Homo sapiens: one gene and its partners. The protein of the gene in region 1 purifies or fractionates together with the protein of each later gene. This does not show direct contact. Each region holds a gene or a part of one and is shown on either strand. Other genes may lie near its edges. The genes, in order: PPP2R2B, ECSIT, CDCA4, PPME1, PPP2R1B, PABIR1 and IQGAP1.

Evidence for each region.
Region 2: the proteins of PPP2R2B (region 1) and ECSIT purify together in Homo sapiens (affinity purification with mass spectrometry; 3 studies listed by BioGRID and IntAct, with this or other methods). This does not show direct contact.
Region 3: the proteins of PPP2R2B (region 1) and CDCA4 purify together in Homo sapiens (affinity purification with mass spectrometry; 4 studies listed by BioGRID and IntAct, with this or other methods). This does not show direct contact.
Region 4: the proteins of PPP2R2B (region 1) and PPME1 purify together in Homo sapiens (affinity purification with mass spectrometry; 3 studies listed by BioGRID and IntAct, with this or other methods). This does not show direct contact.
Region 5: the proteins of PPP2R2B (region 1) and PPP2R1B purify together in Homo sapiens (affinity purification with mass spectrometry; 4 studies listed by BioGRID and IntAct, with this or other methods). This does not show direct contact.
Region 6: the proteins of PPP2R2B (region 1) and PABIR1 purify together in Homo sapiens (affinity purification with mass spectrometry; 4 studies listed by BioGRID and IntAct, with this or other methods). This does not show direct contact.
Region 7: the proteins of PPP2R2B (region 1) and IQGAP1 purify together in Homo sapiens (co-immunoprecipitation; 3 studies listed by BioGRID and IntAct, with this or other methods). This does not show direct contact.

What each region holds. Positions count from the first base shown.
Region 1 is NC_000005.10:146,648,258-146,651,757, reverse strand, and holds part of PPP2R2B (serine/threonine-protein phosphatase 2A 55 kDa regulatory subunit B beta isoform), read left to right. Parts: intron 1-1,033; coding exon 1,034-1,211; intron 1,212-3,500. UniProt on the Homo sapiens protein: The B regulatory subunit might modulate substrate selectivity and catalytic activity, and might also direct the localization of the catalytic enzyme to a particular subcellular compartment.
Region 2 is NC_000019.10:11,508,782-11,512,134, reverse strand, and holds part of ECSIT (evolutionarily conserved signaling intermediate in Toll pathway, mitochondrial isoform 1 precursor), read left to right. Parts: intron 1-3,353.
Region 3 is NC_000014.9:105,014,584-105,018,083, forward strand, and holds part of CDCA4 (cell division cycle-associated protein 4), read right to left. Parts: intron 1-3,500. UniProt on the Homo sapiens protein: May participate in the regulation of cell proliferation through the E2F/RB pathway. May be involved in molecular regulation of hematopoietic stem cells and progenitor cell lineage commitment and differentiation.
Region 4 is NC_000011.10:74,230,289-74,233,788, forward strand, and holds part of PPME1 (protein phosphatase methylesterase 1), read left to right. Parts: coding exon 1-111; intron 112-623; coding exon 624-714; intron 715-3,500. UniProt on the Homo sapiens protein: Demethylates proteins that have been reversibly carboxymethylated. Demethylates PPP2CB (in vitro) and PPP2CA. Binding to PPP2CA displaces the manganese ion and inactivates the enzyme.
Region 5 is NC_000011.10:111,745,890-111,749,389, reverse strand, and holds part of PPP2R1B (serine/threonine-protein phosphatase 2A 65 kDa regulatory subunit A beta isoform), read left to right. Parts: intron 1-1,375; coding exon 1,376-1,436; intron 1,437-3,500. UniProt on the Homo sapiens protein: The PR65 subunit of protein phosphatase 2A serves as a scaffolding molecule to coordinate the assembly of the catalytic subunit and a variable regulatory B subunit.
Region 6 is NC_000009.12:68,783,029-68,786,066, forward strand, and holds the end of PABIR1 (PPP2R1A-PPP2R2A-interacting phosphatase regulator 1), read left to right. Parts: 3' UTR 1-2,538; downstream 2,539-3,038. UniProt on the Homo sapiens protein: Acts as an inhibitor of serine/threonine-protein phosphatase 2A (PP2A) activity. Inhibits PP2A activity by blocking the substrate binding site on PPP2R2A and the active site of PPP2CA.
Region 7 is NC_000015.10:90,475,242-90,478,741, reverse strand, and holds part of IQGAP1 (ras GTPase-activating-like protein IQGAP1), read right to left. Parts: intron 2,080-3,500; coding exon 1,924-2,079; intron 1,676-1,923; coding exon 1,512-1,675; intron 1,078-1,511; coding exon 853-1,077; intron 1-852. UniProt on the Homo sapiens protein: Plays a crucial role in regulating the dynamics and assembly of the actin cytoskeleton.

The DNA of each region.
Region 1 (3,500 bases):
TCAGTCGGGGCTCAGTTGCAAGAAATGATTTGCTTGAAAAGAAAATAGCTTTGGTTATTTTATTATCTTGTTTCTATTAAGTGACCACACCTGTGTTGTGGGGTTTTGTCTGTCTTGGGTGTTTTTTTAGTTTGTTCCCTCTCAGGCATTAGTGTTCTTATTCTCTTTCTTTGTAGCCAGTTCACCCAGAACTCAAAGGAGGAAGAGTGATAGGTCTTTGTTCACATTTGCCAGAAAGACGGTCATGTGTGGGAAACTATTTAGTTGCCGATTCTCTGATCCACCAGAAAGAAATCATTTAATCATGTATTCTTACTCATTCAACAAATACTTACTGAGAAGTATTTATGTATCAGTAAGGTGACCATATCATTAATGTTCAAACTGGGACAGTTTTGCATGTAAAAGTGGACACTACCTGGTTCGCACTCTAAGACAAATATAAACCAAGATTTTCTCAGTCAGATGTCATTGGGTTCCCTATATATTAGTGGCTGAATTTGGACGATTAGAGTCTTGGGTGATGCTAAAGTTTCCCAAAATGCCCTTAAGGATTAAGGACAAAGCCAGGAAGGGGTATAGCTTCCAAAGCCATGAGATGAAAAGACATAAAAGATAAATTTAGATTAAAGTTGAACTAGACATTTCTAAAATTTTCCCACAACTCCCTTTTTTAAATAGATTTCATGTTTAAAAAAAAAATAGAACAATGTCTCTGGAAGGTAATGACTCCACAATGGAAGCCAAGTTCCCCTGAGATGAGGCTACCTGGAGGGGCTTAGAAAAATGTTTAGAATTTATAAAGAATGAAATTTCCCACCAGGGCTAAGTGATGGTGATATCTTTTGAAAGAGGAGGAACAGAATGGAACAAGAACAGTGTGTGATTCGTTATTAGCCTCTTCTTTCTCTAACTTGGAGTTTCTTCAATGTGGCTATTATTTTGTGTGTGATAATAAATGATATTAGCATGCACACTCTTTTCCTATGGAAGATCTTTGGTTCTGAAGTGATTTGTTTCTCTTGCATCCCAGGTGCCTGTCCTGAGACCCATGGACCTGATGGTGGAGGCCACCCCACGAAGAGTATTTGCCAACGCACACACATATCACATCAACTCCATATCTGTCAACAGCGACTATGAAACCTACATGTCCGCTGATGACCTGAGGATTAACCTATGGAACTTTGAAATAACCAATCAAAGTTTTAGTATCCTTTCTTTGTGATCAAGAATCAACTGGCCTGAATTAAGAGTATTCAGGTGCGAGTGGGCTGGGAGAAAATATGGAATAGAAATGCAACACCTAGCATTTGCGGAGAACTTGCCCCTTTTAAAATACACTGGCACCTATGAGACTCTTTAATCATAACAATAAAGTTAGGGAAATATTGTTATTACAAGTGGGAGGCCAGGGCTAGCTCTGGATTGGGACTCTGAATCAATTCCTTCATACAGAGGCATTTATATGTCACGAATTAAAATTAGAGGTGATTTTATCAACAATAGGATAAGACCCTAGAGTTCAGGTTCTTTCTCTGTTAAAGGATTCATAAATCTGTATGGACAGCATGGACCACAGACATACTGGTTTCCATTGTCTCATAATAGTGAAAATAATAGTGACTGACATTTATTGAGTTCCAAGCACTTGCAATGGGAACTTTATAGTATTACATTTTTTACCTCATTGAAGTATATTATGCATATAGAAAAGTACATATTATAATTGTACAGTTTGATGAAATGTATAGTATACATATTATAATTGTACAGTTTGATAAAATGTACAGTATACATATTATAATTATACAGTTTGATGAAATTTCAGAGGTTGAACTCACCTATAACCAGCATTGACATCCAGAAACAGAACTTTGCTAACAATTCTCAAGCCCCCATCATGCCTCTTTATATTAATAATTTCTACCCCCAAGGACATATTTGATAAAACAACCCCATAATGTAAGTATCATTATCTCCTGTTTAATTAAAATATAGAAAAGTCGGCTGGCCGCAGTGGCTTATGCTTATAATCCCAGCACTTTGGGAGGCCTAGGTAGGTGGATTGCTTCAGGTCAGAGGTTTAAGACCAGCTTAGCCAACGTGGCAAGGCCCCAACTTTACTAAAAATACAAAAAAGAAATTAGCCAGGCATGGTGGCGGGCGCCTGTAGTCCCAGTTACTTGGGAGGCTGAGGCAGGAGAATCGCTTGAACTGAGGAGGCAGAGGTTGCAGTAAGCCGAGATCGTACCACTGCACTCCAGTCTGGGTGACAGAGCCAGACTCCATCTCAAAAAAATAATAAAAATAAAAAATATATAGAAAGGTAAAAAAAAAAAATGCTGAATAGCTGGGCCAGTATTTTCACCCCCACTATGTTGACCCTCTATTTCATAGTAAAAATTGGTCATTTATTGAATACCTATCATGTGCTCCATTTCTCACAAACCTAAGGCATGAGATTTATGAGGAATGGCACTGAACAACTCAGGTAACTGAACAATTGACCTAGGTATCAATATGGAGTTTTCTCTTCCACTTACCAGCCTCCCCTACTCTAACTCCATCTATCCATGAGCCCTGCCTCTAAAATATATGTCAAATCAACGCATATATCCCTATCTACCTACCTACACTAGCATAAGCCACTGTTGTCTCTCACCACTGTGACTGCAATAATCTCATCTGGTCTCCATTCATTCTTGCTCTTTTATACAGTACGAACCCTTCAACATGTAATTCAAATATCATTCCTTCCCTGATAAAAAACATTCCAGTAGCTTCCCACTAAACTCAGAATAAAATCCAAGTTATTTAACTTGGCCTATAAGATTCTGCGTGATCTGGAACCTGTCTCCATCTTTGTTATCCAGTCTTGTCACGCTTCCCTAATTCACTTCATTTCAGCCAACTAATCACTTTTCTGTTCCTAAGTAAACCTTATTCTTCCATTCTTTGCATTTGCTGTTCCCTCTTTCTAGAATATTTTGCCCACAGCATTCACATGGCTAGTTACATGTCACTTCAGGCCCCAGAGGTACTCTTTCCCATTAACTCTTAAGTAGCTACCAATAACACTATCCCTGTTATTGTCATGGTACTTACCATGATTTGAAATTTTTTTACTTATGTATTTTTGGTTTCCTCATGTTAGGATGTAAATTCTACAAGAGCAAGGGCCTTGTATGAACTATTGCTGTATTCCAGTACGTGGAACACTCTGACATACAGAAAATTATTGAACCTGTCAAGTTCGAAATAATAGTAGGTCATCAAAGTAGCGCTATCCAGTAGACAGTTCATAAAATCTAACCTGGAAATTTAATTTTAAGAGTTATAGTAAAGCTCTGAAGGTTCGTTTATAGAATAGACCCCATAATGGCTCAAACAAATAAAAGATTATTTTCGTATGAAGTCTAATATTGATGATCCCCATCAGCAGGCAGCCTCCTCCAATCAGTAATTCAGAAACTCGGGCCTCTTTCATTTGCAGCTCC
Region 2 (3,353 bases), on another chromosome or scaffold:
GAGCTCAAGCGATCCACCCACCTTAGCCTCCCAAAGTACTGGGATTGCAAGCATGAGCCACCATGCCTGGCCCCCTCAGACCTTTGTTTGTTTGTTTTTTTTTTGAGATGGAGTCTCGCTCTGTCGCCAGGCTGGAGTGCTGTGGCGCCATCTCAGCTCACTGCAACTCTGACTCCCGGGTTCAAGCGATTCTCCTGCCTCAGCCTCCCAAGTAGCTGGGATTACAGGCATGCACCACCAGGCCCAGCTAATTTTTGTATTTTTAGTAGAAACGGGGTTTTACCATGTTGGCCAGGCTGGTCTTGATCTCCTGACCTCATGATCTGCCCACCTCGGCCTCCCAAAGTGCTGGGATTACACGCGTGAGCCACTGTGCCCGGCCAAGACCTTTTTTATAAGGGGACTAATCTCATTCATGAAGGCAGAGCCCTTATGATCTAAGTGCCTCTCCTCTCAAAGGCCTGACCTCTTAATCCTATTGCATTGTAGATAGATTGCAACATATGAATTTCAGGGGGCCATAAACATTCAGACCATAGCACCCTCCCATCCTTCTCCCAACACTTGCTACATTCTAGGCATCTTCCTTATTTTCTGTGCCAATTCTCACCACAGGGCTTTGCGTTCTCTGTTCCTTCTGCCAGGAACACTGTTCCCCATGGACTTCATGTTATTCCGGTCTCAGCTCCACTGTTCCTAATCAGGATGCCCTTCCTGACCTCCCTGGCCAAGGCACCACCCCTTCACCGTGCTTGGCTTGGTTCCTCATTCACCATGACTCAGTCTCCCTCCTGTCTCCCAAGGCTGAGCACAGGATTTGGTGCAAAGCTGACACTTGGCAGTGGTTTGTTGAATGACTGAGTGGAGTAACACCCTCAACTCAGTGTCCTGGGAGCCCCCACTCATGCCAGATCACACAAGGGATCCAAAGAGAGCCCCTCACAGCACTTGTCATGTGGTCCTGGACAGATAACAGTTTCCTTAAGAGCCAGTGGTTCTGAGATGGAGAAGCCCGGGGTGCTGTGGGAGCCGAGTGGGCAGGTGGGGCTTCCTGGGGGAGGTAAGGAGAGCAGAGGACGCTGGGCAGAGGGAGCAGTGTGTACCAGGAAATGCGGTGCAGTGAGTGGGGGCACCTGATTAAAGAGCTTGATCTCAAACCTCTTGGTTGGTGGGGAGAGCTATGCCGGGGGTGGGGGGGCAGAGATTTAAGAAGAAGGAATCGGGTTGGAATCATGTTTCTGGAAGAATCTGCAATTGGAAACGTGTCTCCTGGCAGCCGTGTGGATGCTGTTGGATGGGGAGAGGGGCTAGGGGACCAGGGTCGTGGGTCCAGGTGAGAGATGGCTTGAGACCAGCAGCAGAATGTGGGGGGGAGGGTTGTTTTTAGTTCATTTCTTCATTTTGCAAAGCAATGCACTAAAAAGCCAAACAGCATGTAAAAGCACACAGTGACGAGTCCTCTGCTTCTACCCAGGCCCCGTGCGCTGCCCCTGACGCCGCCCGTCTCCCTCCCCAGAGGTGACTATTTCCATGTCTCCTTCCAGAGAGGTTCTATACATTTGCAAGCAGATCTCTCTCTCTCTCTCTCTTTTTTTTTTTGGCATCTGTATCCTTTGTATTTAAATATCCTTCTCCCCCGTCTTATGGAGTAAAATACAGCCAGGCACAGTGGCTCATGCCTGTAATCCCAGCACTTTGGGAGGCTGAGGCAGATGGATTGCTTGAGCCCAGGAGTTCGAGACCAGCCTGGGCAACATGGCAAGACCCCATCTCTACCAAAAAAATACGAAAATTAGCTGGGAGTGGTGGTGCACACCTGTAGCCCCAGCTACTCAGGAGGCTGAGGCAGGAGGGTGGCTTGAACTCAGGAAGTCAAGTCTGTAGTGAGCCGTGATCATACCACTGCACACCAGACTGGGTGACAGAGCAAGATCCTGTCTGTTTAAAAAAAAGAAGTTCTTTAGCCAGGCATGGTGGCTTACGCCTGTAATCCCAGCACTTTGGAAGGCCGAGGCAGGCAGATCACCAGAGGTTGGGAGTTCGAGACCAGCCTGACCAACATGGAGAAACCTCGTCTCTACTAAAAATACAAAAAGAATTATCCAGGCATGGTGGTGCATGCCTGTAATCCTAGCTACTTGCGAGGGTGAGGCAGGAGAATCACTTGAACCCAGGAGGTGGAGGTTGCAGTGAGCCGAGATCGCGCCATTGCACTCCAGCCTGGGCAACAAGAGCGAAACTCCATCTCAAAAAAAAAAAAGTTTCTTTAGTAGCAGGGCATTATATACATGTACCTTGCCTTTTACAAATTTCATTTAATACAACTAGAAGTCACTGATCCATCTCAAATTTTTTTGTTGTTTTTTTGAGACAGAGCCTTGCTCTGTCGCCCATGCTGGAGTGCAGTGGCACAATCTCGGCTCACTACAACCTCCTCCTCCCAGGTTCAAGCAATTCTTGTGCCTCAGCCTCCCATGTAGCAGGGACTACAGGCGTGTGCCACCACGCCTGGCTAATTTTTGTATTTCTAGTAGAGACGGGGTTTCACCATGTTGGCCAGGCTGGTCTTGAACTCCTGGCCTCAAGTGATCCACCACCCTCGGCCTCCCAAAGTGCTGGGATTACAGGCATGAGCCACTGCGCCCGGCCTGCTCATCTCAATTTTTTTTAACTTGAAAGGATGAATGATATATGTTCTAATAGCTGTCCACTGTTTTGTTTCAAAAGCAAGTGCATTTTGTTAAAAAAAAAAAAACTTTGTCAGCGGGGCGCAGTGGCTTATGCCTGTAATCCCAATGCTTTGGGAGGCTGAGGCAGGTGGATCACCTGAGGTTGGGAGTTTGAGACCAGCCTGACCAACATGGAGAAACCCTGTCTCTACTAAAAATACAGACATTAGCCAGACGTGGTGGTGCATGCCTGTAATCCCAGCTACTCGGGAGGCTGAGGCAGCAGAATCACTTGAACCCAGGAGGTGGAGGTTGCGGTGAGCTGAGATCAAGCCCCATTGCACTCCAGCCTAGGCAACAAGAGCGAAACTCTGTCCCAAAAAAAAAAAAAAAAAATTGTCTAGTGTTTTTGAATTATGTTCAAGGTATAAAATTTTAAAAGATAAAAAAGGTATTCCTTCCCACCCTGTCCTCCACAGAGGTGAAAGCTATCATTTGCTTCTAGTGTCTCCTTCCTGGGATATTCTGTATATGTGAAGTTATTTTTCTTTTTTTAATTCACAAGCACTGAGCACTTATTATTTGCCAGGGACTGTGCTACATATTTTACAACCACCCAAAGTTAGGTTCATGCCCATAATCCTAGTGCTTTGGGAGGCCAAGGCAGGCGGATCACCTGAGGCC
Region 3 (3,500 bases), on another chromosome or scaffold:
TTTCTATTACTTTTGGTAAATATTCGAGTTCTTTGTGTCAGCCACAAATTTAACTTTTCAGAGCTTTTCCATCCCAATCCATTGTTTAAATCACTGGCTTAAAATTGCTAAGTATATCGAGAATTAACATAAGGCTATGTCAAACTACAAAGGACACCCTGCGTTGGGGAAAAGATTAAGTCCCACGGGTTCCTCTGTGGGAAGTCAATATACCTTTTAGGTTTTTAGTTTCTCTTTCAACCTATCTCAATCCCAAGCCTGCATAGCAATGGATTAATTTAGGACCCAAACCAAATCCTCTTGAACAGCATGCATTAAGCCCAAGTTTATAGACAGAAGAACCCCTGGCTGCCTCCCCTGACTCTGGAAACCCAGCAGCACAACCCCCATAATGTGGGGCCTACAGGAGGTCAGCACGACTGAGCAGGGCAATCAGGGCAACTCACAGAAGGAACAAGAATACCAATGGGACAGGCCAAGAAGACCCACAACCACACTGGGAACCAGTTCAAGAAGCTGTCCCAAGCTCCTAGGACCCTCTGGGTCCCACTTTCCTTTCCTCTGAGTCCTTAGAAATGCCAGGTCCTGAGTCCAAACCCAACGACAGACCCTCCCGCCCTTTTCTGAAAGCCAGATATGGATACTAGAAGCCTCCCACTGGGGATCTTAAGAGGATGAATTCAGTGCTTGGCCTGGTGCTGTCAGCGGTCCTAAGGGCAGCACTAGCAATACGTGACCGTCAGAAATCACCCTAATAACATCTGCTCTGAGCGAGGGAATATACCAACAAACAATGGCGGAACCACATACAGAAACAGAACTCTCAGCCATTATCTGCCGCCATCAGTCGGAAACCAGCCCTTTACCTTCAGTAACGGGCCAGGAAGCCAGGTTGCCCTAGTCAGACCTGCAGGAAGCCTGGCTGCTTTCTCTAGGAACAATCCAGGAAGCTAAACAATCATTTCCATAGCAAGCAGCCCAAAATGGCCAGGACATGATTAGTAACCGACAACCTCTCCAGTTTTTGTCCCTGCTTCCAATTTAGGACCAACCAGAGAAAGCCAAACATGTTCTAGGCCATCTCACAGGAGCCCCACTTCTTTGTTGTTGTTGTTGTGTCGCCCAGGCTGGAGTGCAGTGGCGCAATCTCAGCTCACCGCAACCTCCGCCTCCCAGGTTCAAGGGATTCTCCTGCCTCAGCCTCCCGAGTAGCTGGGATTACAAGGGTGTACCACCAGGCCTGGCTAATTTTTATATTTTCAGTAGAGACTTACCATGTTGGTCAGGCTGGTCTCAAAACTCCTGACCTCGGGTGATCCACTCACCTTGGCCTCCCAAAGTGCTGGGACTACAGGCGTCAGCCACCGTGCCAGGCCAGGAGCCCCACTTCTAACTGGCCACCCCAGTCCCCCAAGTCAGCAGCCTCCATCAGCCATCCCTGAGCTTCCCTGGATTCCACTGTAAAGCTCTCCTGTTCCCTCACCTGCCTATGAGTTTCTGCCAATCACGAGAGAGGAGGGCCGCACCCTTGCTAGGGGAAGCTCTGGATAAACAGCCTCTGCCTGTTCTCACCTGGTTGCTTATTTCCACAGCTCACCATAGACAATCTGGAAGAGCATCAAAAACCATAAAACGAATTTTCTCCCAGGATCCCATCCACTCAGAAAAACACAGTCACCACCTGGGTTCCTCCTTTCCAGTCGTTTCTCCCAGCACTTTCCTCTCTGCACAAGGGAGGGAAGTTTCACACTACTGACAATTTTCCCAATCACAAATGATACCAGTTTCTAACTTTAGGTGTTTTGGTATTTCTAGCATTTGGCTTCCTTAGCCTCGGCTCTTTACTTACTAGGGTGATGTGCAGGTACATTTTTAAGAGGCTTGATAAACATTATTAAACTGCATCCTAAGAAGGTGGAACGCTCCACCAACTTTCTCCCGCACTATTTCTGCACACTTGCTGGTAAAGCTTCCTCTTGTTTTGCCAAGTCTCTAAGCCCCACAGCTAAGCGTTCCTTCCCTCCTCCACTGAGCTCCACGTCTGTGTTCCTACCCTGTTCCACGGCTGCTCTCCTGCCAGGACCAGACACCCTGGCCTCCCTGTGTAGGTCCTTTTCTGGCCATGCCACCCTTCAGCTCTGGGTCAGCCCAACAATGTGGCATAAATGGGATCCCACAGCAAGCACCCTTCTGAGGTTGGCTTTTCTCCTTCAGCATAATTCTCTTGAGATCCTTGCAAACTCTTGTGTGTCAACAGTTCCCAACAGAGTAGGATCTGGAGGCACAGACGGAGCAGAGTGTCACCACACCCCAGCTGAAGGGAACTTTTTCCTTGTTTCCAGTTTGGAGTTATTACACATAAAGCTGCTATGGACATTCTAGAACATGTTTTTGCATGAACATTGGTTTTTCATTTCTCTTGGATAAATGCCAAAGAAATAATCGTTTTATAAAATTTAGGAGTGTTAAATGCACAGGCAATGAGATCTATCACACCGAAAAGAAATTCAGAGAACAGGGGGAACCTTTTTTCTGTCTATTCAAGGACAGGACCAGCAGGTGTGAGCCTCCAGAGAGGCTCCTGGGGAGGTGGGGGGCGGTCCTTGGCCTAGTTTCATCACTCTCAGTTGTAAGCATTCTTTTTTTTTTTAGATGGAGTCTCACTGTCGCCCAGGCTGGAGTGCAGTGGTGCAATCTCGGCTCACTGCAACCTCCACCTCCTAGGTTCAAGCGATTCTCCTGCCTCATCTTCCCTCAACTTCCCGAGTAGCTGGGATTATAGGCGTGCACCACCACGCCCAGCTAGTTTTTTGTATTTTTAATAGAGCCGGGGTTTCGCCATGTTGGCCAGGCTGGTCTCGAACTCCTGACATCAAGTGATTTGCCCACCTCGGCCTCCCAAAGTGCTAGGATTACAGGAGTGAGCCATCACACCCAGCCACAAGCATTCTTTTAGGACTTAAACAGCCCGGGCACAGTGGCTCATGCCTGTAATCCCAGCACTTTGGGAGGCTGAGGCAGGCGGATCACCAGGTCAGGAGATTGAGACCATCCTGGCCAACACGATGAAACCCCATCTCTACTAAAAATACAAAAGATTAGTCAGGTGTGGTGGCACGTGCCTGTAGTCCCAGCTACTCGGGAGGCTGAGGCAGGAGAATTGCTTGAACCTGGAAGGCGGAGGTTGCAGTGAGCAGAGATTGCACCACTGCACTACAGCCTGAACAACAGAGCGAGACTCCGTCTCAAAAAAAAAACACACACACACAAAAAAAACACTTAAAACAAGTTGAATGTATACGATCTGGTGTATTCTGACAAAGGAATGCAACTCAGCAACATACCTCAATGATTTATGCAACACGGATAAATTTCAAAACATTATGCTGAATAAAAGCAGCAAGACACACACAAAAATATGTACCGTAGGATTCTATTGATCTGAACCTTCAGGACAGGCAAAGCTAATCTAAGTTGTGAAAACACAGAAGGGTAGCCAC
Region 4 (3,500 bases), on another chromosome or scaffold:
CTCCAATTATGCTGATTGGACATAGCATGGGTGGTGCTATTGCAGTCCACACAGCATCATCCAACCTGGTACCAAGCCTCTTGGGTCTGTGCATGATTGATGTTGTAGAAGGTGAGTTTTCTTAGCACTGACCAAATCAGGATTTCACTTATAAGAGACATCCTTGGTAGATTATTACCTTGTCTTAGTTTATTGTTGATTTCATTCATCTTGAAATATGTCCCTCTGTCTTTATATCTTTTTTAAGTTTATACAAGATAACCATTTTTCCATGTCATCAAAAACTCTTCATTAACATCTTTTTATGGCTGCATAATATTTCAATCCTATGTATGTCCCATAATTGTATTTAATCATATAAAAAGAAGCTGCCATGTCTTTTCTGACCCAGCTTCAGAAGTCACACTGCTGCTTGTGAATACAAGTCATCCTCTTCAGTGTGAGGGCATGACATAAAGAAGTGAATACCCCAGAGGCAAAAATTATTGAGGGCCATCTTTATTTCTCTGCGAGCATCACTAAATTCTGCTGTCATCAAGAGCAGATATATAGTAGTTGACTCAGTAAGTGTAAATGCTCAGAATAAGTTAAATATGTGGTTACAGTTTTTGTTTAACATCCAGGTACAGCTATGGATGCACTTAATAGCATGCAGAATTTCTTACGGGGTCGTCCTAAAACCTTCAAGTCTCTGGAGAATGCTATTGAATGGAGGTAACCAACAAATCTTTGTCGCCTTTATTTAATTAATTTGTTTGTTTGTTTGCTTGCTTATTTATTTATTTAGGAGACAAGGCCTCACTCTGTCACCCAGGCTGGAGTGCAGTGGCATGATCCTAGCTCACTGCAACCTTGAACTCCTAGGTTCAAGCAATCCTCCCACCTCAGCCTCCCAAGTTGCTAAGACTACAGGTACACACCACCAAGCCTGGCTAATTTTTAAATTTTTTGTAGAAACGAGGTCTTGCTATGTTGCCCAGGCTGGCTTCAAGTAATCCTCCTGCTTTAGCCTGGCCTCAAGTAATCAAGTAATCAAATTCCTGGCCTCAAGTAATCCTCCCACTTTAGCCTCCCAAAGTGTTGGGGTTGTGGCGTGAGCCACAGTGCCCAGCCACTGTTGCCTTTATTCTAAATGTTAGATTGTAGCTTTTCTTCTTTTTTAGGTCAAGCACCAAGTTCAAGGAATAGAATTTCAGTTGCCACGCCTTATTGTAATAGCATATGAGGAAACATTATATAAACAGCAGAATTTTTTGAACATTTAAAAATATTTTAGATTTGGCTCAGTTGTCTGAAACCCATTGTTTTCCCAATACACTATAGTACCTCCTGGAATCTTAGTAATTATTGATCATCTGCTGTCTAGCTGTTTCTGCCTCTGAGGTAAGAGGTTAGACTAGGTGGTTTCTAAGGCATCATCCACCTCTGATGCTTCATGGTTTTAGATTTACTTTCTGTGTTTCAGATAAAATGGTGGAGAAATGGAAGATGGCTATAGGTTCCATTCCCTCAAATTTATTTGGATTTTGGGTAAATAAACTCAATGGGTAAATAGTTTTTATAAAAATCAGTGACAGAATTCCATTTAAGCAAAGGAATGAATTTATTCATTAATTCAGTTAATCATTTGATAAAGTATTTATTAAACACTTATTTTGTGCTAATGAGTGAAGATTCAGAGATGAATAAAACACTGTCCCTTCCCACAAGGAGATCAGTCTTTGGATAAATGTCTTCATCATCCTATCTTCCTTCCTATTCTTCTAACTCCATCTCCAGTCTCTTCTTCAGAACATTTTCTCTTAAGTTCTCCAAACCACCCAGATGACGCTTTCAGCAAAATTACAAGAGACCTTTAAGTCTCTATTATATTGCACTGTATACCCTTAAGTTTTCCAATACTCCCTTGAGGGATATGGCTCATATTGTTAATTTTCATTAATGTCTGTCTTAATGCCCTTCCTGCATCATAAGGGAAGAAGCTATTCTGTATTTCTTTTCTACTTTCATATAGCATATGGCATACTGCCCTAGCAGGCAGAATATATCTGTTAACTGAATCAGATATCAAGTGGAAATTTAGGACTTGGTAAATATATCCTAGGCGTTTTCCTAGGACAAATGGTCTTATGCAAGAATATGGCTTGTCAGAATGATGTTTGTGTTGGTGAAGTTTCTACCACTTCCTGTTCACTACTGTGATGCAGGATTCCTGTTCTCACAGAAATATCAAAGATCTATCTTGGGCAGATAGCATCAAGAATGTAGCTGCTGCCAGCTTGGCTTGTATCTCAGGTGCCCTGCCTGCTTCCGCAGTAACAACAAGTGAGAAAGTTATTCTAGACTTGGCTCAGTTGTCTAAAGCCCATCCAACTTTTATCCAAACTTTTTTTTTTTTTTTTTTTGAGACAGGGTGTCACTCTGTTGCCCAGGCTGTGGAGTCCAGTGGCATGATTACAGCTCTCACCGCAGCCTTGACCTTCTGGGCTCAAGCGATCCTCCTGCCTCAGCCACCCAAGTAGCTGGGACTACAGCTGTGCACCACGATGCCCAGCTAATTTTTGTTATTTGATTTTTTTTTTTTTTTTTTTTTTGTAGAGACAGGGTTTTATCATGTTGGCTCGACTGGTCTTGAACTCCTGAGCTCAAGCAGTCTGCCTGCCCGCCTCGGCCTCTCAGAGTCATGGGATAAATGGGTATGAGCCACTACGCCTGGCCCTTTTTCCGAACTCTAAAAATTTATTCAGTAAATTTTTTTTTCTAGTGCCTAAGATGTGTCAGTACCTGATCTAAGAACTGGGGGATGAATCAGGCTCAGTTCCTATCATCAAAAAACTGGGGATGCAAACAAGGAAACACATAAACATAACACAATGAAGGAAGCCAGGGGATATACCTAATGCAGCCTGGGTATCATGGTAGGCCTTCTCTTAAAGTAGTCTTGTTTCTTTTGCCAGATACAGGATAGAATAAGGGTTCTGTTTGTTAAATGTTAAGATGTTCTGGGTTTCATGAGAGTCATTGATCTTTCTGAACCTGAAAATTATTATACTATGAGGTATTTGGTAATTTTGTTTTTTATTCTGCTGGATATCTGAATCAAGTTTATGACTGATGGCCATTTTGGCTATTCTAGATTTTTTTTTATGTTGAAATATAAGGCCAATGATTTACTGCTTTTGCTCTCATAGGTTTCCTAATGAGAGGCAGCAGGGGTATAGTCATTAAGAACCTGGGCTTTAGGCCAGGTGTGGTGGTTCACACCTGTAATCCCAGTGCTTTGGGAGGCTGAGATAGGAATATTACTTGAGGCCAGGAGTTTGAGACCAGCCTGGGCAACATAGCGAGACCCTGTCTCTACAAAAAATATATATATTTTTTTAATTAGCTGGGTGTGGTAGCATGTGCCTATAGTCCCAGCTACTCAGGAGGCTGAGGTGGGAGGATCATTTGAGCCCAGAAGTTCAAGGTTATAGTGAGCTATGATCATGCCACTGCAC
Region 5 (3,500 bases), on another chromosome or scaffold:
ATTGCTTGAACCCAGGAGGCGGAGGTTGTAGTGAGCTGACATTGCACCACTGTACTCCAGCCTGGGCGACAGAGAGAGATTCCGTCTCGACAACAACAACAACAACAACAACAAACTGGAAAATAAAAGTTAATTAAAACTGAAGGAAAATTCTCAACCTGAAATGAAAAAGAAATCTTGGCTGACGTAATCTAAGTGTATGCCAAAATTTGTTCATTATGATCTTTTAGTACAAAGCAATTTTGGGCCAGGTGCGGTGGCTCATGCCTGTAATCCCAGCACTTTGGGAGGCTGAGGCGGACGGATCATCTGAGTCAGGAGTTAAGAGACCAGCCTGGCCAACATGGTGAAACCCTGTCTCTACTAAAAATACAAAATTAGCTGGGCATGTGCTGCATATCTGTAATCCCAGCTACTTGAGAGGCTGAGGCAGGAGAATCACTTGAACCCGGGAGGTGGAGGTTGCAGTGAGCTGAGATTGTGCCACTGTACTCCAGCCTGGGCAATAGAGTGAGACTCCATCTCAAAAAAAAAAAGCTATTTTGTCTTATTCAATCACTATTTTCAAAGCACTGACACATTATATTACCTCTCTTTTTTTAAAATATAGAATCACCAGTCAGGAACTTCTTAGAGTTCAAAGAAGCAAGACTGTAAATGTGTAGACCCCAGAAGGGAGGCACTAGGAAAGTGTGTCACAGCATTCTCCATGTGGTGTGGAAGCCCCGGGGTTAGAGGACTGTGTAAATCTGCTCCCGGAGCCCATCCCCAGCCTGCACTGAAGTGGCCACCTGTTGACAGTCGGGAGGAACAGGGCTGGGAGAGCAAGCCATGCCTGGGCCATATGCCCTGTAGTCCTGGGCCTGCTTTATTCTCCCTCCAGGGCTTTCTCCTGTTGTCTCGAAAATACTCTCTTTAACTGGGGATATCTCTATGTCTTGAGGTCAGTTGCTTTATCCTTAAGGATTTGTCATAATAGTAACCAAAAAGGGAAGACGATTGAGAATTAGTAATATTACTGACAGGTGTTTTCCTGGGTAATTCATTTTTACAGGTAATCCAGATTTGCTTGGCAGACCATACACAGTGCATTCTTCCTGCTCTTTTGCAGTGTTGTGGCTGACTTCTGGCCACCCTGTTCTCTTTTACCTAGCAGGGCCTATGCCAGCTCACGTATGCTTTTTTTTTGTTTATGATTTCCGTCCAATAAATAGATTTATGGTTTGTTTGTAATTCCTGTGGTGTTTCTATCTCTTATTTGTTTATTTGGAAACAAGTTTTTTTAGCCTTCAGGTAACCTTGGTGTAATGTAAATAGACCATCTTTATTTCTGAATTTTGGCAATGTATGTTAATGGAATCTTCTGTATCTGTAGGGTGTGGAATTCTTTGATGAAAAGCTGAATTCTTTATGTATGGCTTGGCTCGTGGACCATGGTGAGTAGATAAAAACAGATTATTGAAAGCCCATATATCCATGATTTTCATACATTTCCTTTTAGAAAGGAATCTCAGTCTGACCAGATATTTTGCCTTAATATTGTAGGAATGAAGAAAGGCTCTAATTAAAGTTTAATCTTCTGAATATAAATTTGACGTTTCTACCAATTTTTTGTATCTTCGATTTTATTTTCTCCATTAAACAATTTATTTGCATTATTTTCTTACTCAATCTATTACATTATCTTCAGACCATCTCTTTTATATATCTACTTACTCCTCCCTTATCTGAAGATCCTCTTTTTGACCATCCTGTAATTGGTGTCTTCAGCAGCTATACACTAGGTTGTATGGAGATTGGAATCAGATGAAAGGCCTGGGTGGGAGAAATGGCTACTTGGCTTTTTGAGGTGACATAGAAGAGGAGATCTACAGTGAGACAGTAGAGGATTCTTAGGTGTGGGAAACACTAGCTTTGCCATAGGGAGAGAGAGGGCCTGGATTTCTGGTTTGGGTGAAAGGAAGGCTTACTGCTTGTACTCTCACTGCTGCTGCTACAGTGCTAGGAGAGGGTGAGCTCAGGGCAGGTCAGATAGGACAGCAGGAATGAGCAAGTGACTTCCTGGTGAGGCTTCAGGTAGAGGTATATGTGTGTATCCCCTTGTGTGCCAGGCAGCAGTGGGTGACAGATGTACCGTCTCTGCCAGATCCCAGGTCCAGACTTGACAGCTTCAGTGTTGTCTTAGACCTGTTTCGATGAGTGTGAGTGCCCCTATGGGGTCATGTGACATTGTCCTTGAGCTTTGTTTCCATGTTTTGGTGGATATAATAGATAACCTGAGTCAGTTCCACAGTATCTTTTATATACTTGATATATGTATTTAGTGTATCTCTTTGTTCATCTATGGGTGCTTATGCCTGGAAATTTGGGAGGAATGAGGATATTTGTGTCTGCTTATACGTGTGGGTGGTTTTGTTAAAGGCATGTTTGCATCATATGGAGGATCATATGGTTAAGAGTGTGAAGAGGAAGGATGTGAAAAAATATGTGAAAATGTATAAGGGCTTATATATGTGGGTATTTCCAGTGTTTTCAAACTGGATTGTAGACTTCTTTCTCTTTTTCTTCTCTAAAGTTATCTTATTGTGGCCTATTTATTTCTTTTTAAATAAAATTAAAATTTGGCAAATCATAGGAAAGAAATACCACTTTTAAAAAAAATGTTTATGTTATATCTGATAAATATTTGACGTTACTGGGAATGGTGCATCCTAGCAAATCATTCTGTGCTTTTTTAAATTTTATTTTACTTTAAGTTCTAGGATACATGCATAGAACATGCAAGTTTGTTATGTTACATAGATATACATGTGCCATGGTGGTTTGCCGCATCTATCAACCTGTCGTCTAGGTTTTAAGCCCCACATGCATTAGGTATTTGTTCTAATGCTCTCCCTCCCCTCGCCCCTCACCCCCTGATAGGCCTCAGTGTGTGATGTTCCCTTCCCTGTATTCATGTGTTCTGATTGTTCAACTCCCACTTATTAGTGAGAACATGTACTGTTTGGTTTTCTGTTCCCGCGTTAATTTGCTGAGAATGATGGCTTCTAGCTTCATCCATGTCCCTGCAAAGGACATGAACTCATTCCTTTTTTATGGCCGCATAGTATTCCGTGGTGTATATGTGCCACATTTTCTTTATCCAGTCTGTCATTGATGGGCATTTGGGTTGGCCTCAAGTCATTCTATGCTTTCTTTAAAAGTTGGCATTTTAGATTAAGATGGTGTTTTATTTTGAGGAATTTTTAAAGTTCTAATATTCCACAAAGAATTAAATTCCTGGCACCCTTTCTCTGTAAGATTGTCTTCTCTATGCAACTTGATTACTCCTTCCTCTTTTCGGATTTTCTCTTTCAGTTTGGGAGCAGGAGAAACCCTTGTTTATTTCACTGCAGCAGCATGCTGAAGTGGGGACTGCAAGAGTTCCATGAACCAATGAAATAACAGCTCTGAAATTGTTTTGTACTTAATCACAGGAGCTTTTTTGCTTTTGCATTTCA
Region 6 (3,038 bases), on another chromosome or scaffold:
CTTGCCTGAGTGATCTCCCAGCCTGTCTTCTGTCTCCTTTTGGTTCAGTCTTTATACTGCCTCTTGAGTAATCTTTCTGAAATTTAAACTTGATATTTTTCGCCCTCTTGCTTGAAAACTTCACTTGCTTCCCCATTTCCTACTCTTTAAGGAATGATTTCTTTAGCCTCAGATAGAAGGACCTTTATGATCTGGCCATATTCTGAAATAGCTTCAATCCTCTCCTCATCTCTGTTCCAGTATACATCTTTCCTTCTTATTCTGCAAACATTAGACCACTTGATATTCTTTAAATATGTCATGTACTTTTCTTGTGTCTGTTCTTTGGGATAATTCCTATCCTTTTCAGGGAGGCAAATTGCACGTGAGTTTAAGTATGAAGGCAATGTATACCTGCTGATTGTAAAATATTTAAACATTGTACATATCTGTGTGGTTTTAAAAGTCTGCTTTTAATTATGTAAAATTCATCTTCCCTTTCCACAGATAACTTCTGTTAACAACTTGATATCTATTGTACAAGATGTGTTACTGGCATTTCCATGTATATATGTATATAAATGCAGGAAACCAACATGTCATTGACACCTCTCTTCTTTACTTTTCCCCATATCTAATCATTCCTCAAGTCTTACTGATTTTTATCAGCTAGAATCTATCTCCTTATTTCTACCTCTATTGCCACTCTGATCCAGGCTACCAGCATTTCCCTCTTAGGCTTCTGAAGCAACTTCCTAACTCCCACTTGTGCTCCTCACACTCACTCTGGTCGGCTATCCATTCATTCTCCATACAGCAACTAGAGTCATTCTTTTAAAATTGCGGACCTGATCCTTCCATCTCCCAGCTGAACGCTTTTCATTTGCTTCCTGTTCTCATGAGTATGCCAAAATGTATTAATTCTGGGCTAGGAGGCCCTGAGGAATTTGGTCCTTCCCTCCTCCCCCCTCGTTTTCTGTGCTTCGCCCTCACTGGCTTGCCTTTCTTTTCCTTAAATACATCATGTTCTCTCCTATTTTAGATCCTTTTCCCCGAAGGTATGGAAACATTATTTCTGTAAGCTTATTCTTCTATATAGATGGGAAGTTTTTAAATCAGATAAGGTTCTAAGGGCATGTGGACAATTTACGTTATCATAGTATTGTTCATAACGTCCATCATTATTCTGTAGACTGTAAGGGCTTACTTAGCTCGTGTAAGAATTATCCTTCAAAAAGCATTTTTAAGGTATTAGTATTGCTAATCTATAAACTTTGTGCAAGAAGTCCTAAAGTCAATAGCAACATTTATTTAAAGTACAGTTTGTCATACTTAATAAACCTCTGGTATATTTTCCTTTATTATGCTTGTTAAAAACACAGTATAAATGGGAGAAATCATTAAAGATCATTAACTCCAAGGCTGCTGGATGTTAGGACCCTTAAGCATACTTAAAAGATTGATTGTAATCAAGAATAACTTGTATCAGATTGCCTTCCAGTGATTCACATTTATTAGTTCAACCAGTTACATACCTGTAGCAAGAGACCAGTTTATTTGGCAATAAAATTGGGGAAGGAATCAAGACTTAAATGAGGAAAGTGAGTCTGAGAACATTTTTTTTCAGGGTGTGTTTATAGATTAGTAGAACAATTTTGAAGATCTAACAGAGGTGGGAGTCAGGGGAATGGTTGCCAGACAATTGAACCAAGAAGATGATGATCATTTCTTGAGTAGCACCAGAGAACAGAAGAAAGAGTTGGCCTTGGAAAGGAGGTCTGGAAACTTATTTTTCTTCTGAAACAGGAGGGAGAGTGAAAAGGCTAGGCAAAGATATCCATAAATGTTGAATTGATTTGTTGTTGCAGGGGTTTAGGAGTATGGAGGTAGGTATATGAAAAGTAGAATTTGTTTCTGATTGTGCCTATTTTCCAATTATTGAGGAATCTAAGATACATGAGGATAGGGACAGGAGATCATTTGGAAGCTTGAGTGCAGTAAAGGTTTAATGTTGCCTCTGAGAATCTAAAGGAGTAAGTTAAGGACAAGTAGAAGGCTTATTAGGCTATGATGGATGCCAGGTTGCAGTTGGATGGCAGGCACAAGGAAGTGGGTTGGATTGACTAGGTTTGGGAATTGGTTAAGTGGGTACTAGGTAAAGCCCAGTGTGTGAAGTAGTTAAGGGTTCTGCTGAAAGTGTAGTTTGAATGATTGGCTGAGGCATTGAGGATAAGAGAAGGGAGCAGAGGCTTATGGACTAGACCACTTTTTTCAGGGCTTTACCTTATCAGCCATGACAAAGTATAGAGAATCTGGTCTCAATGTAGGTCTCTCACTCCAGCAGTTTTGCCCACATTTTTCATGGCTGTTAGAGAATCAGGGCTGAAGGCAAGCCTTGAGTGCCACTTACTTGGTAAAAAATTGTGTCAGATTGCTCACTGTAGCCAAGACAGAGTTCTTTGTGGCTTCTGTAACTTGCCATCCAAGTAAAAAAATTTTCTTAAAAGTTGAAATGACCTTTGTATAAAAAGTAATAAAATACTTGCTATGTGTCAGGGACTGTTCTAAGTGCTAAGCAAATATATCAATGCATTTAATCTATCACTATCATCTGAGGCAAGTGCTATCATTATCCTCATTTTATAAATGAGGAAATGGAGACACAGGTTGAGTTACTTGCCCAGGATTCCAGAGCTGGGAGGTAGGCAGCGAATTGTGGTGGTTAGGAATATAGACAGTGGAGCAGGGTGGCTGTGGTGAGGATTGAATGGGTTCGTACACAATGTGCTTACAAAGATGCTGGGCAATTAGCATCCTTGATGGATGAAACTCCTGCTTTCACACTCAGTTAACAGTACAATATCCTTCAAAGCAGGCTATCCTTTTATGAAGCGATTGTTTCTGATGTTAGCCTTTCTTATAGTGAACAGACATTTCCCTCTAACTTCCACCATTCAATTCAAGTCCACCTTTGGCAAATGCAAAACAAGCCTTATTCTTCTTTTTATAGGTGATAGCCCCCTTCTAGAAATCAGAAATACTGATCCTTCTCTAATGAC
Region 7 (3,500 bases), on another chromosome or scaffold:
CAGGGTCCATTTAAGTCCTACACCCTCCAGCTTAGAGTGTTCAGACATAAACACTCTGCACCTAGCTCTTAGTAAGGCTGGGTTCATCTTAGCTTTAGGGCCTCAGCTAAATGAAATTTTATCTTCCGGGATAGGCTTTCCCTAACCACCTTATGTTAGCTCCCTCTTATAAAGTCTCCATTAAAGAACCGTACATAAAACTTCATAAAACTTTCTTCAATGTTTAATTATGCTTTTATTTTTATGTACCTGGTTGGTGTCTCTTCCACCCAATGAACTATGAAGAGAGGGCAGGAAGCATGTCTGTTTCACTCATTATTGCATTACTGTACACATCTCTAACACAATGCCTGGCACATAGTTAATACTCAATAAATATTTGCTAAATAAGTGAATTTATTACTAGGTCAACAACTTAGAAAGCACAGTTTTCTAAAGAAAAACTATTTGAGGCTGGGTGTGGTGGCTCACAGCTGTAATCACAGCACTTTGGGAGGCCGAGGCAGATGGATTGCCTGAGGTCAGGAGTTCGAGACCAGTCTGGCCAACATGGTGAAACCCAGTCTTACTAAAAATACAAAAATCAGACAGGTGTGGTAGCGTGCAACTGTAATCCCAGCTACTCGGGAGGCTGGGGCATGAGAATTGCTTAGACCTGGGAGGTGGAGGCTGCAGTGAGCTGAGATTATGCCACTGTACTCCAGCCTGGACGACAAGAGTGAAACTCTGTCTAAAAAAAGAAAAGAAAAGAAAAACTATTTGAACTAATATTAGTTTATAAATAAAGAGAGGGGAAAAAAGAGGGAAAGACTATAACAACATGAAAGAAAAGTGTCATTATGGTTAACATACCTTGCCTCTCCTGTCTGAGACTCCATCTGATTAACCCAAGATTTGTAAATATCCACAGGGTCAGTTTTGATGTTGAGAGATTTGTCATCCATAATTTCCTTCACGACTGGGGCCAAGATCTGTCTCAGGGCATTCTGGCCACGGGCACCACGGTTGAAACTTACAACCATTTTAATAACCGTAGGATTTCCTGTCACAATCTCTTGAATCTGATCTACCTTCGACCTATAAAACATCAGATAAAAATTTAAACTTGTCACAAAACCCATCAACTTAAAAGATCCTTCCTGCTTAAAGATCCTATCTCCCTGAAACAGTTTCTCTCGAAACATTCCCCAGCACTCACAGAATGTTCCTGCAGCTGCACGCTCAATCGTGGTCATGATTGGGTCCGCTACTAGATAAAAATGTGAATTCTTTCTGTTCAGATTACTTTTTGAAATTATACCTTAATACAGAATGTTCCTAAAGTTAATTTATCCCTTCCCTAGAAGCAGCAAGATTTTATATCAGTTATTTAAAAATTAGATGCTTCTTTAGAGTAAGTATTTTTCATAAATTAATTGAGATCAAGAAAAGATCAGGAAGGCATGAATCTCAAACTGGGAGCCCCTCTGATAGTGGGAAGGGGCCTGTGCCCTGAGGAAATCTGTTCATACTTGATTTCCTCTTGGAGTGCTGTCTTAAAGAGCCGCAGGAGCAGGTACTCCTCTCGCTGGTTGGACGCGTAGTTGTAGAGTGTGAAGATTACAGAGTCCATGAACTTGGTGGACTTGTTCTGGGGCATCTGAAAAATGAGCTTGGCCAGATAGGTGGGATTGGTCTGAAATAAAACCAAGGGATAAGTCATTTGTAGGTAATATAAAGGCTGGCAAGATATATTCAATTATTTAAAATTGAAGGACTACAATACATATGAGAAAAAAGATTAATAAATTAACATGTTACAGTGCCCCTCACTCACCCCTCAGTGGAAGTCAAAAATACTTCCAGAGAGATCGATGGTAAGGCTTTCTTGTGGAAAAATAAATTCACTAAATTTTTATAACACTGATTCCAGGAGCCACTTACTTGCAATAAATAAAACAGGTGCTGGTAAGCTTCCAACTTCTCTCTCTTCTCCTTGCTCAAAGCCTTGAGACCTCCCTTCTGTTTATTTATCATCATCATATCAGACAACTGTTCCTTATTTTTTTTGGTAAGTTTTTTACTGTGGGAAACCACATCCTATAAACAAAAACCAATAAATAGATCAGAAAGCTTTCAAAGATGAACCTCTGGGCATTGAGGAAAGGTTTTGCAGCATGTGCAAACTCACATGAAGGTGTACTGCACTGGCAGATTCCCACTGAATATTTAAAAACCACTACACTTTATCCTGTTTTCAGTACACCAGTCAAATCCATTCCTATGTTCCAACAAAGAATCTGAGCCATAAGAATGTCCACTGAATTGGCAAACCAACTTCCAGCAGTCTATTATAAAAATAAGTCTTAAATACAATAAAAGCTACATATATATTGAAACATTAATTGCAATGTTATTTATAATAAACGCTTGGAAAACAACCTAAATGTCAAATACTAGGGGAAAAAGAGGTAAATCATAGTATATCTTCTAAAAATCTAATATGCTACTGTTAAAAATAATATTTATGGCTGGGTGCAGCGGCTCACACCTGTAATCCCAGCACTTTGGGAGGCTGAGGCAGGAGGATCACCTGAGCCCAGGAGTTTTGAGACCAGCCTGGGCAATACAAAGATACCCTATCTCTTATAAAAATATAATTTGCCAGACGTGGTGGCATGCACCTGTCGTCCTAGCTACTTGAGAGGCTGAAGTGGGAGAATCACTTGAGCCTAGGAGGTCGAGGTTGCAGTGAGTCATGATCATGCCACTGCACTCCAGCCTGGGGTACAGAGGGAAACTCTGTTTCAAAAAATAAAATTAAAAAAAAATTATGACTACTTATCATAGGGAAAGAGTCTTATCCTTTAATATGAAGTAAGAATGTAAGATACAAAATGACTGGGGTAGGTGAAATTAGGGGAAGACATTTATCTTCTTTTCTCTATCAAAATTTTGTCAATTAAGTTGTTTTATGTCTTAAATAATTTTTTTTTTTTTTTTTTTTTTGGAGATAGAGTTTCACTCTGTCACCCAGTCCGGAGTGCAGTCATGCAATCTTGGCTCACTGCAACCTCTGCCTCCCAGGTTCAAGCGATTCTTCCACCTCAGCCTCCTGAGTAGCTGAAATTACAGGCATGTACTACCATGTCCAGCTAATTTTTTTTAATTTTTAGTAGAGACAGGGTTTCACCATGTTGGCCTGGCTGGTCTCAAACTCCTGGCTTCAAGTGATCCGCCCTTCTCGGCCTCCCAAAGTGCTGGGATTATAGGTGTGAGCCATCATGCCTGACCTGTCTTACATAACTTTTTTAAAAGCTTATGATGGCCGGGCATGGTGGCTCATGTTTGTAATCCCAGCACTTTGGGAAGCCAAGGTGAGTGGATCAATCACTTGAGGCCAGGAGTTCCAGACCAGCCTGGCCAACATGGTGAAACCCCCGTCTCTACTAAAAATGCAAAAAAGCCGGGTGTCGTGGCTCACGCCTGTAATCCCAGCACTTTGGGAGGCTGAGGCGGGT